2 separate regions of the Homo sapiens genome follow, and region 2 is linked to region 1. Evidence: fine-mapped expression QTL. Tissue or cell type: T cells. Region 1 holds a variant in brackets; the other region holds the start of a gene. All regions are shown on one strand. Distances are from middle to middle.

Region 1 (8,369 bases):
AGGCTCCAGCCATAGCTGAAGATACAATAAGCTGTCTGAATATAAGTAACACATGCTCCCACCATGCCTAGTCTGGCAGCTTGCCTTAGAGAATAGCAGAATGCCCTGCTGAAGAGCCAGCTGTGCCTCCAATTGGGACAACACCTCATGAGGTTGGGGCACTGGCATGCAGGATATATTATATGTTCTGAATCATGAACCAATGTATGCGTATGTGTGGCTTCTCCTGTAATTAGAATGTACAGGTATGGAAACAATGGGGTGGAAATGGGATAGTATCTTTCATGATTAAGTCTAATGTGTTTGTTACTCATCAAATTATTGCTTCTCCTCTCCATGACTTGGGGCTCTGCTGACTTGGCATTTGGGGATCCAAGAGATAACTGCTTCTATAAGAAGACAAAACAATGTTTCCACTGCTGGTCATTTTGGGCTCTTATACCACAGGCAAAAAAAAAAATAAAGAAGGTCATGATGTTGACTGGGATGACTGGTCCTGAATAATCTTGATCATCATGGGAAAGAAGGCTGCTGCTTCAAAGTGGGGATGTGGAAATCTTAAAAATTTTGATATAGAGTCTCACTCTCTCACCCAGGCTGGAGTGCAGTGGCACTATCATGGCTCACTATAGCCTTGACCTCGGGATAGGAAAATCTTAATAGAACTCAGGTCTGCTATTCTGGAGCAGGTCTTAAACAACCATATCCAACGGAAAAAGTTAATGGAAGACTGCTATATCCCTGAAGACAGATTTACCAAGGAAGTAATTCTTATGAGGTGAGTTTGGTAAGAAACTCCAACTTACTGAGTTCTTTTGTGAAGGCAAAGGGAACATGACACAAATTACAGAGAGGAAAATTTATACATGTCAACCACAGCCCCATAAGCAATTACAGAATAGGGACTGTCACCTCTACCCATATTTCTTTCCTCGTTGGGTATATATTTATACATTTTAATGAATTTTAAAATTCCTCATCCCCACTTGTACCATTTATATTTGGTGTGCAAAAGTGGTTAATTATACAATTTCTTTTTTTCTTTTTAAAAATATCAGGTTTACTGAGGCCTAATTTTCTTTTTTAACAGGGTCTCACTCTGTTGCCCAGGCTGGAGTGCAGTGGTGCAATCTTGGCTCACTGCAACATCTGCCTCCTGGGTTCAAGCGATTCTTGTGCCTCAGTCTCCCAAGTAGCTCGGATTACCAGTGCCTGCCACCACGCCTGGCTATTTTTGTATTTTTAGTAGAAACGGAGTTTCACCATGTTGGCCAGGCTGGTCTTGAACTGACCTCAGGTGATCAGCCTCACAAAGTGCTGGGATTACAGGCATGAGCCACCGCACCTGGCCAAATTTTTTTCAAATATTTTAAATCAGCAATTGATTGAATCTGAAGATTCAGAACCTCAGAGGGAAACTATGTTGTTCAGAAGACTTACAGATTTGATTAGCTCAAGACATTTTAAAGTATGCATGGTGAAATTTTAATGGTAACCACGAAATAATAAAATTAGAATGTATAATTTCCAAACCAATAGAGAGAAGATATATGCAAAAGAAAGAAAAGAAAGGAAGAATGGGGGGGAAGGAGGGAGGGAGGGAGGGAGGGAGGGAGGGAGAGAGGGAAGGAAGGAAGGAAAGAAAGATTGGCAAAAATCTAAAATGAGACAAGAAATGTGTATATGCGTGTGGTGGGGGGAATATAATGAAAAGGGGACAAAGCACAAAGCAAGGTGATGGAAATAAGGCCAAATATATCATAATTACAATAAAGTTAATGACCTAAAAGTGCCATTTAGGACAGAGATACTTAAATTTGAAATAAAAACAAAGTCCATTAATATACTGTACAATAGGCTCACTTAAAACATAAGTCAACAGGTTGAAAGCAAAAAGATGAAAAAGACTAATCCAGACAAATACTAACAAAAGAAAGCTGAGGTAGTTATATTAATATTAGAGAAAATGGATTTTAAGACAAAAACATTATTAGGAAGGAAGAAGTTTGTTATATAATTTTAAAAATAGGGGGTTATAAGTACACAAAAAAATTGGTTAAAAAAATAAAAAAGATTTGAATAACACAATTAATTTGTTTTGTTTTATTTTTGGAGGTAGGGTCTCACTCTGTCGCCTAGGCTGGAGTGCCATGGTGCGATCTCGGCTCACTGCAATCTCTACCTCCTGGGTTCCAGTGATTCTTCCACCTCAGCCTCCCCAGTAGCTGGACTACAGGCATGTGCCACCATGCTTAGCTAATTTTTATATTTTTTGGTAGAGACAGGGTTTCACTATGTTGGCCAGGCTGGCAGGATTAGTTTTTGATCACACAATAGAACACAATAGAACATCTAAAAATTAGGGAATATTCATTCTTTTCAAGCACATGTGGAACATTTATAAAAATTAAATACTAGTCCATAAAGTGTCAGCAAATTTCAAATAACTGCTATAATAATAGCATTCTCTGACTACACTAGAATTAAATGAGATGTTAATAATCAAGAAAAAGGCTGTCTGTGCTGGCTCACACCTGTAATCCCAGCACTTTGGGAGGCTGAGGTGGGCGAATCACCTGAGGTCAGGAGTTCAAGACCAGCCTTGCCAACATGGTGAAACCCTGTCTCTACTAAAAATACAAAAATTAGCCAGGCGTGGTGGCAAGTGCCTGTAATCCCAGCTACGTGGGAGGCTGAGACATGAGAATTACTTGAACCTGGGAGGCGGAGGTTGCAGTGAGCCGAGATCGTGCCACTGCACTCCAGCCTGGGCAACACAGCGAGACTCCATAGGAAAGAAAGAAAAGAAAGAAAAGAAAGAAAGAAAGAAGGAAAGAAAGAAGGAAGGAAGGAAGGGAGGAAGGGAAAGAAGAAAGAAAGAAAGAAAGGAAGGAAGGAAAGAAAAGAAAGGAACTCTCCATGTATTTATAAATTTAAAAACACACTTCTAAAAATGTCAATACTCCCCAGATTGATATATAAGTTAAATAAAATTTCTACTAAAATCTCAGCAAGGTTTTATGTAGAATACACAAAATTAGTCCCCAAATTTATGTGAAAAGACAAATAGAATAGCCAAAATAATTTGGAAAAAAGAATAAAGTGGGGGAACCAGTCTTCCCAATTTCAAGATTTTTATAGAGCTACACTAATCATGACTGTGTGGTATTGGCAGAGGGAGAGATACAGATCAATATAACAGGATAGAGAACTCAGAAATAGACCTACACAAAAATGTCTAACTGATTTTTGACAAAGGTGCAAAAGCAATTCAATGACGAAAAGATAGCCTTTTCAACATACGGCACTGGAGTAATTGAAGATCCATATGCAAAACAAACAAACAAAAACACATGAACTTTGAAGTAAGTCTCATACTTTCTACAAATATTAACTCAAAATAGATCACAGACTTAAGTGTAAAGAACAAGACTATAAAACTTTTAGGAAAAAAAATAGGAGAAAATATTTGAGACCTAGCACTAGCAACAATTTCTTAGACTTGACACCAAAACATAATTCATAAAAGGAGAGATTGATAAATTGGACTCTATAAAAAATTAAAAAACTGTTGCTTTCTCAGAAACCCTGTTGACAAGATAAAAAGAAAGGCTAAAAACTGAAGAAAACCACATATCCAACAAAGGATTAGTATCCAGAATATACTCTCAAAAGAACCCTCAAAACTCAACAGTAAAAAATAATCCAATTAGATGCCAAATGAGCACATATAAAGATGTTTAATATCATTAGCCATTAGGGAAATGCAAATTAAAGCCACAATAAAATATTAGCATATACTCTCTCTAGTTAAAATAAAAAATTTTGACAACATCAAATGCTGGCAAGTATGCAGAGAAACCAAATCATTCATATATTGCTGGTGGGAATGTAAAATAGTAGAGCTGAATTGAAAAACAGATTGGCAGTTTCTTAAAAAAAAACAAACTAAATGAAGTATGACTCAACAATTACACTTCTAGGCATCTATCTCAGAGAAAGACAGACTTATATTCATATAATAACCTGTATATGAATATTCACAGCAGCTTTATCCATAAATCCTTAAACTAGAAACAACTCAGATGTTCTTCAGTGGGTGAATAAAGAGTGGTACATCCATATTATGGATTATTCCTTAGCAATAATAACAAATTATTGATAAAGGCAATGATCTGGATAAACCCCCAGGGAATCATGCTGAGTGAAAAAAATCCCAAAAGGCTATATACTGCATGGTTCCATTTATACAATTCTTGAGATAACAAAATTATAGAAATAGAGAACAGATTAGTGGTTGCCAGGGCCTAAGACAGTAATAGGAAGGAAATGCACGTGGCTGTAAAAGAACAACACAAGAGATCCTTGTGGTGATGGAATTGTTCTGTATCTTGACTGTATTAATGTCAATATGATTGGAACTGCATTCAGAATGGTGGAGTAAAAATCGCCAAAAATTGATTTCTTCAGAAAAGCAATGAGAGCACTGGCAAAAAATTGTTAAAATCAACATTTTTAGAACTCTGAAAATTAACCAAAGGCTCACAAAAGTCTGAGGAGCATTTTCACACACACACACACACACACACACACACACACA[T/C]GGCTAAATCTCATAAGAAGAGCAAGACTGGTGGCATTTTAACTTGTCCTATTGCCATCCCTCTTTCTGTAGTTCCATAGTAGCCTTGGAAACCAACAACCTTCAATCATGGTAACCCTGAAAACCAGCAACCTAGCAGTCACTGAAGCAGGCAGAATGGGCTTGGAGTTCCCCTAAATGCTCATCTTCCATTAGTTATTCTTTGACTTGTCTGGCAGTTTCCTGGAAACCACAGGGGCTCTCAGGGTTGGTCTTTATTGGAACTGACTCAGGGTTCATTTACTGTGAACAGCCTTTTCTTTGGAGTATTTATGGAAAACAATTAGTGGCAATTGTTTAACATCTCAGGTGCCTGAGGTGATAACATTTGGGGGAAAAAAAGATTATAAGGAAAAACTGAGGAATAAGATTTTTTTTTTGACATGGAGTCTTGCTCTGTTGCCCAGGCTGGAGTGCAGTGGCACGACCCTGGCTCACTGCAAACCTCTGCCTCCTGGGTTCAAGTGATTCTCCTGCCTCAGCCTCCTGAGTAGCTATGATTACAGGCATGTAGCACCATGCCCGGCTAATTACTGTATTTTTAGTAGAGATGGGGTTTCACCATGTTGACCAGGCTGGTCTCGAACTCCTGGCCTCAAATTATCCGCCCACCTCGGCTTCCCAAAGTGCTGAGATTACAAGCATGAGCCACCTTGCCCAGCTGGATTAAGAAGTTTATAAGTGTGTTTGGAAAGCTTAATCAGATTTCCCGGAAATGTAGATGACCACATGCATGTACAGGTGACCACATGCATGTACAGGCTGTATCCCTGCCCAGAACTATGTGCGTACCCAGGAAAGGTTTGAGAAGACCTTAATCTCTAACCACTGGCAGACCTTGAGGTTCTGCACAAGCAGAAAGTAAAGACTAAAGCAGAGTTGTCTAGTGTGTGGTACAGCTTTATGGATATGTCCCAACACACACACACAGACCTTTGGCAAAGGCTGGGAGACTTATCAATTCAAAGCATTTAAGAAAATATCTGTCCATTTATTACCTGATCACTAAGCTAAGAAAGCAGAGGCTATAGTGGCCAAACGTTACAAAGAATACAGACTTTACAGAATTAATTTAGGAAAGTAACTAGACAAACAGGAGCAACAGCAATTGCAAGAATAAATTCTGGGGAAGAGGGGGAATCTGATTTCCAGAGTTGCCACATTTTATTATTTAAAACATCTAGTTTTCAATAAAAGTGTATAAGATATGCAGAGAAACAGGAAAAATAACCTATACACCGTGGGGGCTGGGTGGGGGGAAGCAATGAATAGAAACTGTCAGGAAGCCCTGATGTTGGATTTACTAGACAAAGACTTTAAATAGGATAGTATAAATGTGTTCAAACAATTAAAGAAAACTATATCTAGAGAACTAAAGAAGAGCATGAGAATAATGTCTCACTAGAAAATATTGATACAAAGATACAATTATAAATGAGGACCAAACAGAAATTCCAGAGTTGAAAAGTACAATAACTGAAATGAAAAATTCACTAGAGGAGCTCAATAGTAGATTCAAGCTAGCAGAAAGAAATATCAGCAAACTGGAAGAAAGGTCAATTGAGATGCCCCAATATGAAAAACAGAGAGAAAAAGAATAAAGAAAATGAAGAGTTTCAGAGATCTGTGAAACACCATGAAGTGTACTATCATACATATAAAATAAATCAAAGAAGCAGAGGGGAGAGACCTAAAAAGAATACTGGAAGAAAAAAAGGCCAAAACTCCCCAAATTTGTGAAAAACATTAATCTACACATTTTAGAAGCTCAGCAGACTCAAAATACGAGAAACTCAAAAAGATTTGCACCTAGACACATTATAATCAAATTGTTGAAAGCGAAGGACAAACAGAATCTTGAAAGCAGTGAGAGAGAAGTAATTCATCACATATAAGGGATCCTCGGTAAAACTAACAGCTGATTTCTCATTAATGTCAGTATCTTGATTGTGATATTTTCTATAGTTTTACAAATAGGAGAAATTTTACAAATTGGGAGGAAACTGGGTAAAGTGTACACAGGATCTCTTTCTATTATTTCTTACAGCTGCATGTGAATCTATAATTATCTCAAAATTTAATTAAACATACTCCTGAAACAATACTTCAATCCAAGATGAAATTGTAATAAAAGTGTAAAAAATATTTAGAAATGAACAATAATAAAAATACTGTGTATCAAGACTTGGGAAACAAAATAGTAGTGGTAATTCAAGGTAAACTTATATAGTCTTGTATGCTTATATTAGAAATTAAAACCTGAAAATGACATAATTAAGCACCCAACCGATGACAGTAGAAAATAAAGAATGAACTCAAAGAAAGTAAAAGGAAGCACATAAAAATTATTAAAGCAACAATCAAGAAAATACAATAGCCACGCACAGTAGTGTGTACCTGTAGTCCTGACTACTTGGGAGGCTGAGGTGAGAGGACCATTGGAGCCCAGAAATTTGAGTCCAGTCTGGATAACACAGTGAGATACCACCTATAAAAACAAAATAAAATGAGATATTTTTAAAAAGTATTTTAAAAAGTACAATAGAGGGGATCAACAAATTCAAAGCTTGTTACATAGGGAAGAAACTAATAAAATTGACAAACTACAGGGGGCAGGGGGAGGGGAGAAGAGAGAGGGAGAAAAAATATTAGTAATGCAAAGGGGGACATAACTACAGAAGGATCAGAGATGAAAAAAAAAGTTTTTTAAAACTTAGATGAACAAAATCCTAGGAAAACATACTTCAAGAAGAAATAAGTCCTATGACCAGTAAAGAAATTGAAGTTAATAAAAATCTTCTTACAATGAAGCCATCAGGATTAAATAATTTATATGATCTGAATGTCCCCTAAAACTCATATTGTTTCAAGTTGAAGCAGTCTCACCAATATAATAGTATTAAGAGGTAGGTAATTCTTCTGTGTCAAAACAGGGGGGATAATAAAACAAAGAGGTAACCCCTTTAGGTAATGATTAATTCATGAAGTGGAGTCCTCATGAATGGGATTAGTGACTTTATAAAAGGGCCCAAAGAACTAGTCAGTTCCTTTTGCCCTTTCATCTCTTCTGCCATGTGAGGACATAGTGTTCATCCCCTGAAAGAGGCAGCAACAAGGCGCTAACTTGAAAGCAGAAACTAGGTCCTCACCAGGCACCAAACCTGCTGGCACCTTGATCTTGGACTTTCCAGCCCCCAGAACTGTGAGAAAATAAATTTCATTTCTTCATAAATTACCCAGTGTCAGGTATTTTGTTACAGCAGCAGAAACACAGTAAGATAGTGAGTTCTACCAACTTTTCAATAAACAGCTTATTCCAATGTTATACAAACTCTTATAGAAAATAGAAAAAGAGAAAATATTCTCGACTCATTTATGAGGTAAATAAAACTTGATTCCCTAAACAATCTAATTATAGACAATCTCACTTTGGAGCCTATATGTAAAAATATTAAAGTATTAGCAAACCAAATCAGTGAGATATTTTAAAAAGGTAATAAATAATGAGAAAGTCAGGCTAATCCAGGGATGCAAGAATGGTTTAATACATATATTTTTTGTAAGCAGAATTTTCCATTGCTAAGAGAATGGTTTAATATTAGGGAAACAATTATTCACATTAAAGATTAAAGGGGTACTTGGTATGGAAAAAAACAAACTCAGTTTCTCCTACTATACCCTCACAACACAGAACACTTCCGTGACTCCAGATGTGTGGGGGTTTATACCC
Region 2 (6,164 bases), 47 kb before region 1:
TACCAGGGGAATAATTATATTGGAATAGACTAGACCAAAGCAGCCCTGACATCTGGGAGCTGCCTGGTCCTATCAGCCAGGACTTGGTTGCTCAGAGCTGTCCAGCCTGGTGCAATTCGGTCTTGCTGTGCTGAACATAGACGATTTCACAGACATCAGCATAGAACAAGGCCATCCGCGACCAGGGCAGACTAAGACAAAAATGAAACTACTCCTTAATCATATCTGAACACAGACAAAACATGAATATTGTCAAATCACAGAAATGACCCAAATCCCCCTGTAGAGCTAAGCTGAGTGGAGGCTGCTGGTTTACCAGCTGTAGCTTCAGCCTTGCTCTAGTCTGCTTTCCTTCTAGGCAAGATGTATTAAGACTCCCAATCATAGTGTTAGCTCCACTTCCTGACAGCATCAACCCAGAACAAAGCCTCACTTCCTTAACCTCTCCCCAATCACCTAACACAACTCCAAACATTAGACTAAGTCCTTTCTAACGCCCCCTTCCTGGGACGCCCCATGATCCCCATGGTGCATGCTCTCCCTTGTTGCAACGAGTCATCAGCTCAGCTTGTTCACCCACACGTGTGTTTCTGGTGATCTCTGGTTGGAGGCATTGAAAGTTCCTACCTCATTGGGTTGTCGTGAGGAATATGTACTTGAAATGATACAATCCTAAGGCTCTTTCAATATGCTTGTCATACTTTATTATTATCCCCATTTCACAAGGAGGACACTGAAGCTCAGAGAGAGGGCCAGACTTTGCCCAAGGTCACACAGCTGGTAATGACAGAGAAAGGATGTAAATTCAGGCCTCATTCCAAAGCTAGTTTCCTGAATCCCTGCCTCCATGCTCCATGCTCATAGGGCAGAAACCAACAAGACAACTTGGGTTGGTGTTTGGAGAGGAGAAGAGCAAAGGGCCCTTGGAACTCAAAAGAGAGCCTCAGGCTGGAGAAGCAGGGTATCCAGGATGACCTGAGTGACCCTCTCCTCCTCCCCTCCCTTTCATGACTCCCCAACTGGATCCTCCAAGGGCTCCCTCCCAGACTGCCTGGCTGCTGAGTAATGCAGAGCCAGTCAGGCCCAGAGTAGGGGTCAGTGTCAGCAGAGTCGGAGGCCTGAGTCACTTCCTGACCCTTGCTCAAGAGCATCCGGAGCTACAGCCAGAGTGGCCACTCGTGCTCTCAGAAGATCGCACCCACTTGGGCGATGAGCATGTCCTTGGTATCCCCACCTTCCTGGGCTCACCTCTGCCCCACTCAGGTGTTTAAGACGTGCAGCAGAGAGGCGCCATCCTGACCTGGTGCCACATCCTAGCCCCTTTCCTTACTGGATCCTCAAACCAGAAGAAAACCTGAATCTCTGAGGTCAGTTACTCTCTTTTGCCTGCGTCTAGCCTAAAATCTGGCTTCCAGGACCCCACCCCAACTTCAGAATCAAGGTACCTTGCACTGGTGCCACTGATCCCAAAGGTCCAAAACTCCTGCAGCACTCACAGGCAAGCGACCCCGTTCCTTAGGCTCTCATGGGGTCTCAGGGCCAGAGTAGGGGGTGGGGGAGGGAAAAGGCTGGGGAAAATATCAGATACCCCAGGGCAGGATGGACTGAGGGAGACATGGTTGGATCAGTAGACATGTCCTTATGATGTGGGCAAGGCCATTTCCTTTGAGGAGCAATTCTGTCAACTCTAGGCCACCGCATAGCCTCGCAGCCAAGAGCAGGGACTCTAGAATCAGGCTGTACTTGCTTTCACCCAGCTCTGCCCTTACCAGCTGTGTTACCTTGGGCAAATTACTTAGCCTCTCTGTACCTCGGGTTCCTCATCTCTAAAATGAGGATAATCATATTACTGACTCACAGGCCTCTTACCAGGATTAAGTGAGTTATATAAAACACTTAATGACGGGCACATGGCAAACACAAGTGTGTATTAAATGACTCTTTTACATCTAATGGGCTGACTCCTCCATTCATTCTCCACACATTTGCTGTTATATTGCCATGTGCCAGAAATGAAAAAGACAGATTGCCTGACTGAAATAATGGCAGGTGTTGTTGTGTGATGATGGCACCCCACCCTCATCTCAGAATGATCTTCCAGGCTGTGCCTGAGGCTGCAGGACTGCCCGGGAGGGCTTGGGGCACAGAGTTTGGGGGCTGCAGACTCCCTAGTGTGGGCCCCCGGCTTGCTGTAAGCCCCTAGCAAATTTCTTTCCTTGTTCAATAGACCTTCTTTTTGACAAAGTGAAGCAGGTGGTCCCCGCCCCTTCCACAGCCCCATGCCTGGGCAAGAGAGGGGTTGGACAAGTCAGGCTGGGCATCCAGAGCCCTTGCAGCCATCTCCTCCCCCCACCTGCCCACCTTGCTCCTCAGAGGCCTTTGTGGTTTGAGCAAAGAATCTCCATCAGGCTGCACAGGCCACCAGACAGGTGGCAAGGGCCCCAATTAGTCATTGTCCTCATAGAGCCTTAGGAAGTCCACAGAAACTGTGTTCAAAACTGCACATTTGGGCCAGGTGCGGTGGCTCACTTCTGTAATCCAAACACTTTGGGAGGCTGAGGTGGGCGGACCACCTGAGGTCAGGAGTTGAAGACCAGCCTGGCCAACATGGTGAAACCCCGTCTCTACTAAAAATACAAAAATTAGCTAGGAGTGGTGGTGTGCACCTGTAGTCCCAGCTACTCAGGAGGCTGAGGCAAGAGAATTGCTTGAACCTGGGAGGCGGAGGTTGCAGTGAGCTGAGATGGCGCCACTGCACTCCAGCCTAGGCAATAGAGTGAGACTCCATGTCAAAAACAAACAAAAATCCTGCACATTTGAACCTGCGTGGATATTTGGTATTATAGAATTAGTGCTATTAATTTTAGGTTTAAGAATGTATTGTGGGCCAGGCGCGGTGGCTCACGCCTGTAATCCCAACACTTTCGGAGGCCGAGGCGGGTGGTTCACGAGGTCAGGAGTTCAAGACCAGCCTGGCCAAGATGGTGAAACCCCATCTCTATTAAAAATACAAAAATTAGCCGGGTTTGGTGGCAGGCACCTACAATCCTAGCTAATCGGGAGGCGGAGGCAGAGAATTGCTTGAACCCGGGAGGCGGAGGTTGCAGTGAGCCGAGATGGCAACTGCACTCCGACAGAGTCTCAAAAAATATATATATATAGTATTGTGGATACGTACTTTTAAAAATCCTTACGTTTTAGAGATACAAAAATATTTATGAATAAAATGATATGACGCCTGGGTTTTGCTTCAAAACGATGGTGGGAGAGGAATGTGGATGAAATAAAATTGATTATGAGTTGTGGTTGCTGGGGAATTGGGGTCACGGGGGTTCATTAGAACCTCCTATCAGATGTGGTTCAGAAGCCTCAGACCTGGGAGCTGGCTAGAAATGCAGAATCTCGGCTCCACCCCAAACCTACTGAGTCAGGATCTGTATTTTAATCAAATAAAATGCCCAGGGGATTCCTGAGCACACTGAAGTGTGAGAAGCGCTGGCTTACTCTGTTCAATTCTTTCCTGCATGTTTGACATTTTCCATAATGAAGAGGTTGTGGGGTTTTGTTCTGCTTTCCTGTGTGTTCACAGTCACAGGGAGCTCTTCCTACGGAGACCGGGGCTGGAGGGAACTGGGAAGCACTGCCTCCCCGCTCCTGCTTGGACCCACCAGCCCCGCCGCTGGCCCGCGCTCGGCTGGGAGGCACCGGGGTCCCGCTGGGCAGCCCCGACCCCGTGCCTGGGCCGCACCTGCCGCAGTGGCTCCGTCGGGCCGGGCGGAAGCGCGGGAGCGCAGGGCTGGACAGGCCCGGGCGTGGCGGCCCCGGCGCACCTGGGCGAGCCGGCAGGTGGGAGCGTAGCAGCCCGGGGCCCCCGCCCTCGCGCGGGGGAGGAGCGGGCGGCGCGGGGCGGGCGCAGCGGGGGTCGGGGCGCTGGGAGCCCGTTGGGCCGCGAACGCAGCCGCCACGCTGGGGCCGCCGAGATCGGGTGCCCGGGATGAGCCTCATCCGGAAAAAGGGCTTCTACAAGCAGGACGTCAACAAGACAGCCTGGGAGCTGCCCAAGACCTACGTGTCCCCGACGCACGTCGGCAGCGGGGCCTATGGCTCCGTGTGGTGAGACCCCTGGGCCGCTGGGGGGCGGGGGGCGGGCGCCAGGCTCTCCCCTTTCCGCCCAGCCCGCCCTGGGCTGGCCCCTCGCCAGCGCCACCTTGACCGCGGACCTCAAGGCCCAGCGCCCTCCCCGGGGCCACCCAGCGGCCATCTCCCTTTTCTCACCGAGTGGCTGAGTGAGGTCTCTGGGGGTTGAGTTGGGACTGGGCCTGGTTCTCCAGGACTGTACACTTGCAAGACCCCAGAGTTCATCGGGCAGATCCTCACTGTTACAGACGAGTACACCGAGGCCCCAAGAGGGGGAGGTGGCTCGCCAAGTTGCAGACAGAGTGAGACTCCCGCCCTGCCGTGGATCCCGTCGCAATGAGACGTTGCTGCCCCTGGCGCTGTGCCCCTCTCTCAGCTCCTGCCTGGCTTCCTACTCCCTGCCCTGCGTCCCGCGGCTCCCCCATATTCTAGGTGGTGGGCCTAGTCCCCTCTCAGCCCAGCTGCCCAGTGGGAGGGGTCAGGGCGGTCTGGGAGATACGGCCCAGGAGGAGAGCCTCGCCTGCTGACCGGCCTGTGCCCGACAGCTCGGCCATCGACAAGCGGTCAGGGGAGAAGGTGGCCATCAAGAAGCTGAGCCGACCCTTTCAGTCCGAGATCTTCGCCAAGCGCGCCTACCGGGAGCTGCTGCTGCTGAAGCACATGCAGCATGAGAACGTAGGTGGTGGCTGCCCCGGGGAGGGGGTGGGGGCTGCCCTGGGGAGTCAGGGGCAGGCGCAGGCGGGGCCTCCCGGTATGGAGAGCTCGGGACAGTCTCCTCCCTGCTCCCCTGACGGTGCCTCTCGCCTCACTATTGAAAGGAGGGGGTGCCGAGACCTTCCCTGCCCACTTTCCAGGAAGAGGTCAAAGGGTATTTTTGGCAGAATGCACTTTGTGAGGTACAGACTGTGTTATCCTACAGAGGAAATTGGCACAGGGGAACTTTGTAATTGGTTCCATGTCTGAGAGCTTGTGGCCAGCTGGGACTAGAATCCTAGTTAGCGTTGTGTCCACGTGACCCTGATAACAATAGCAATATACACATATTGAGCACTTCCTATGTTCTAAGAGCTCTGCATACACTAACTTGTCTAGTCCTCATGATATATGAGTACTACTGCCCCCATGTCACAGACAGGAAACTAAAGCACAGCAAGGCTCACAGATTAGATGGTTAGTCAGTAGCAGAGCTGGGGTTTCAATCTCGGCAGCGAGGCTCCCGGTCTGAGCACATGACCATCAGATTGTCTTGTCTGATAGAAGCAGCTGGGAAAACCAGGGGCCCAGCTCAGGGCCTGGCAGCCAGGCTTTGCTGCAGGATACCTAGATTGGAGGGCAGACATTTCAAAGAATGATTTCAAAATGTTATGTACATTTTAAGCCCATCCTTCTCCAGCAAACCCCTCCCCTATGGCCTCCAGCCAGGGTGATCTTGCCCTTGGCTCTGAACCAGCCCTGTGGCAGGCAAGGATGGATGTGGCTGGAGACCCAAGGTCAGGGGCAGGGAGTTTGCTGGCTGAAAAGCTCCTTCTCTGTTCCCTCCTTTTTCCCTTCCACCCTCCCCTTATGCTTTCCTGCTGCCTAGGTGAGTTGAGAGTGGGTTTGTGTTGCTTGCCCTGACACCAGACTTGACAGCAATGAGCACACATCATTCTCCCCACCTTCCCTTCTCCCCAGCCTGACTCTCTGTCATGATTTATTGCAAACTCCCTCCAAATCCAGGGGATTCCTCTAGGCCTCTGCCCTTTTTACTGCTTCCAAGAAGGTTGGAGACATGCCTCCTGCTGGAGGTGGTGTATTAGGAAAGGGTGGATGGCCCTGTGCATGGCCAGGGCCCAGGAGGAGGTGGGAGGAGAAGGTAGCGTCTGTCTAGCCCTCACAGGTGACTTCTTCCCCAGGTCATTGGGCTCCTGGATGTCTTCACCCCAGCCTCCTCCCTGCGCAACTTCTATGACTTGTGAGTTGGGCTGCACTGGGTTCTGGGGCATTTGCAGGCCTTACATGCCGCTGGGGAGCAAGGTGGGGGAGGG

What was found. PIP is the estimated chance that this variant, and not a neighbour inherited with it, causes the effect.
Region 2: it holds the start of MAPK13, and the variant in region 1 is fine-mapped to the expression of MAPK13 in T cells (TOPMed, PIP above 0.99).

The regions. Positions count from the first base shown.
Region 1 is chr6:36,172,581-36,180,949 of GRCh38, forward strand. BRPF3-AS1 (BRPF3 antisense RNA 1) reads right to left here. Exons shown (of 3, transcript NR_187147.1): 2 at 7,037-7,127. Among named protein-coding and RNA genes, the nearest start is that of BRPF3, 20 kb to the right of the region's middle. The variant T/C (reference allele first, on the strand shown) is at 4,601.
Region 2 is chr6:36,126,589-36,132,752 of GRCh38, forward strand. It overlaps MAPK13 (mitogen-activated protein kinase 13), which reads left to right and starts at 3,925. Exons shown (of 12, transcript NM_002754.5): 1 at 3,925-4,113; 2 at 4,683-4,812; 3 at 6,033-6,091. The coding sequence starts at 3,995. RefSeq lists silencers at 3,821-4,070, 4,111-4,180, 4,821-4,930 and enhancers at 4,076-4,679, 4,571-4,690, 5,401-5,650.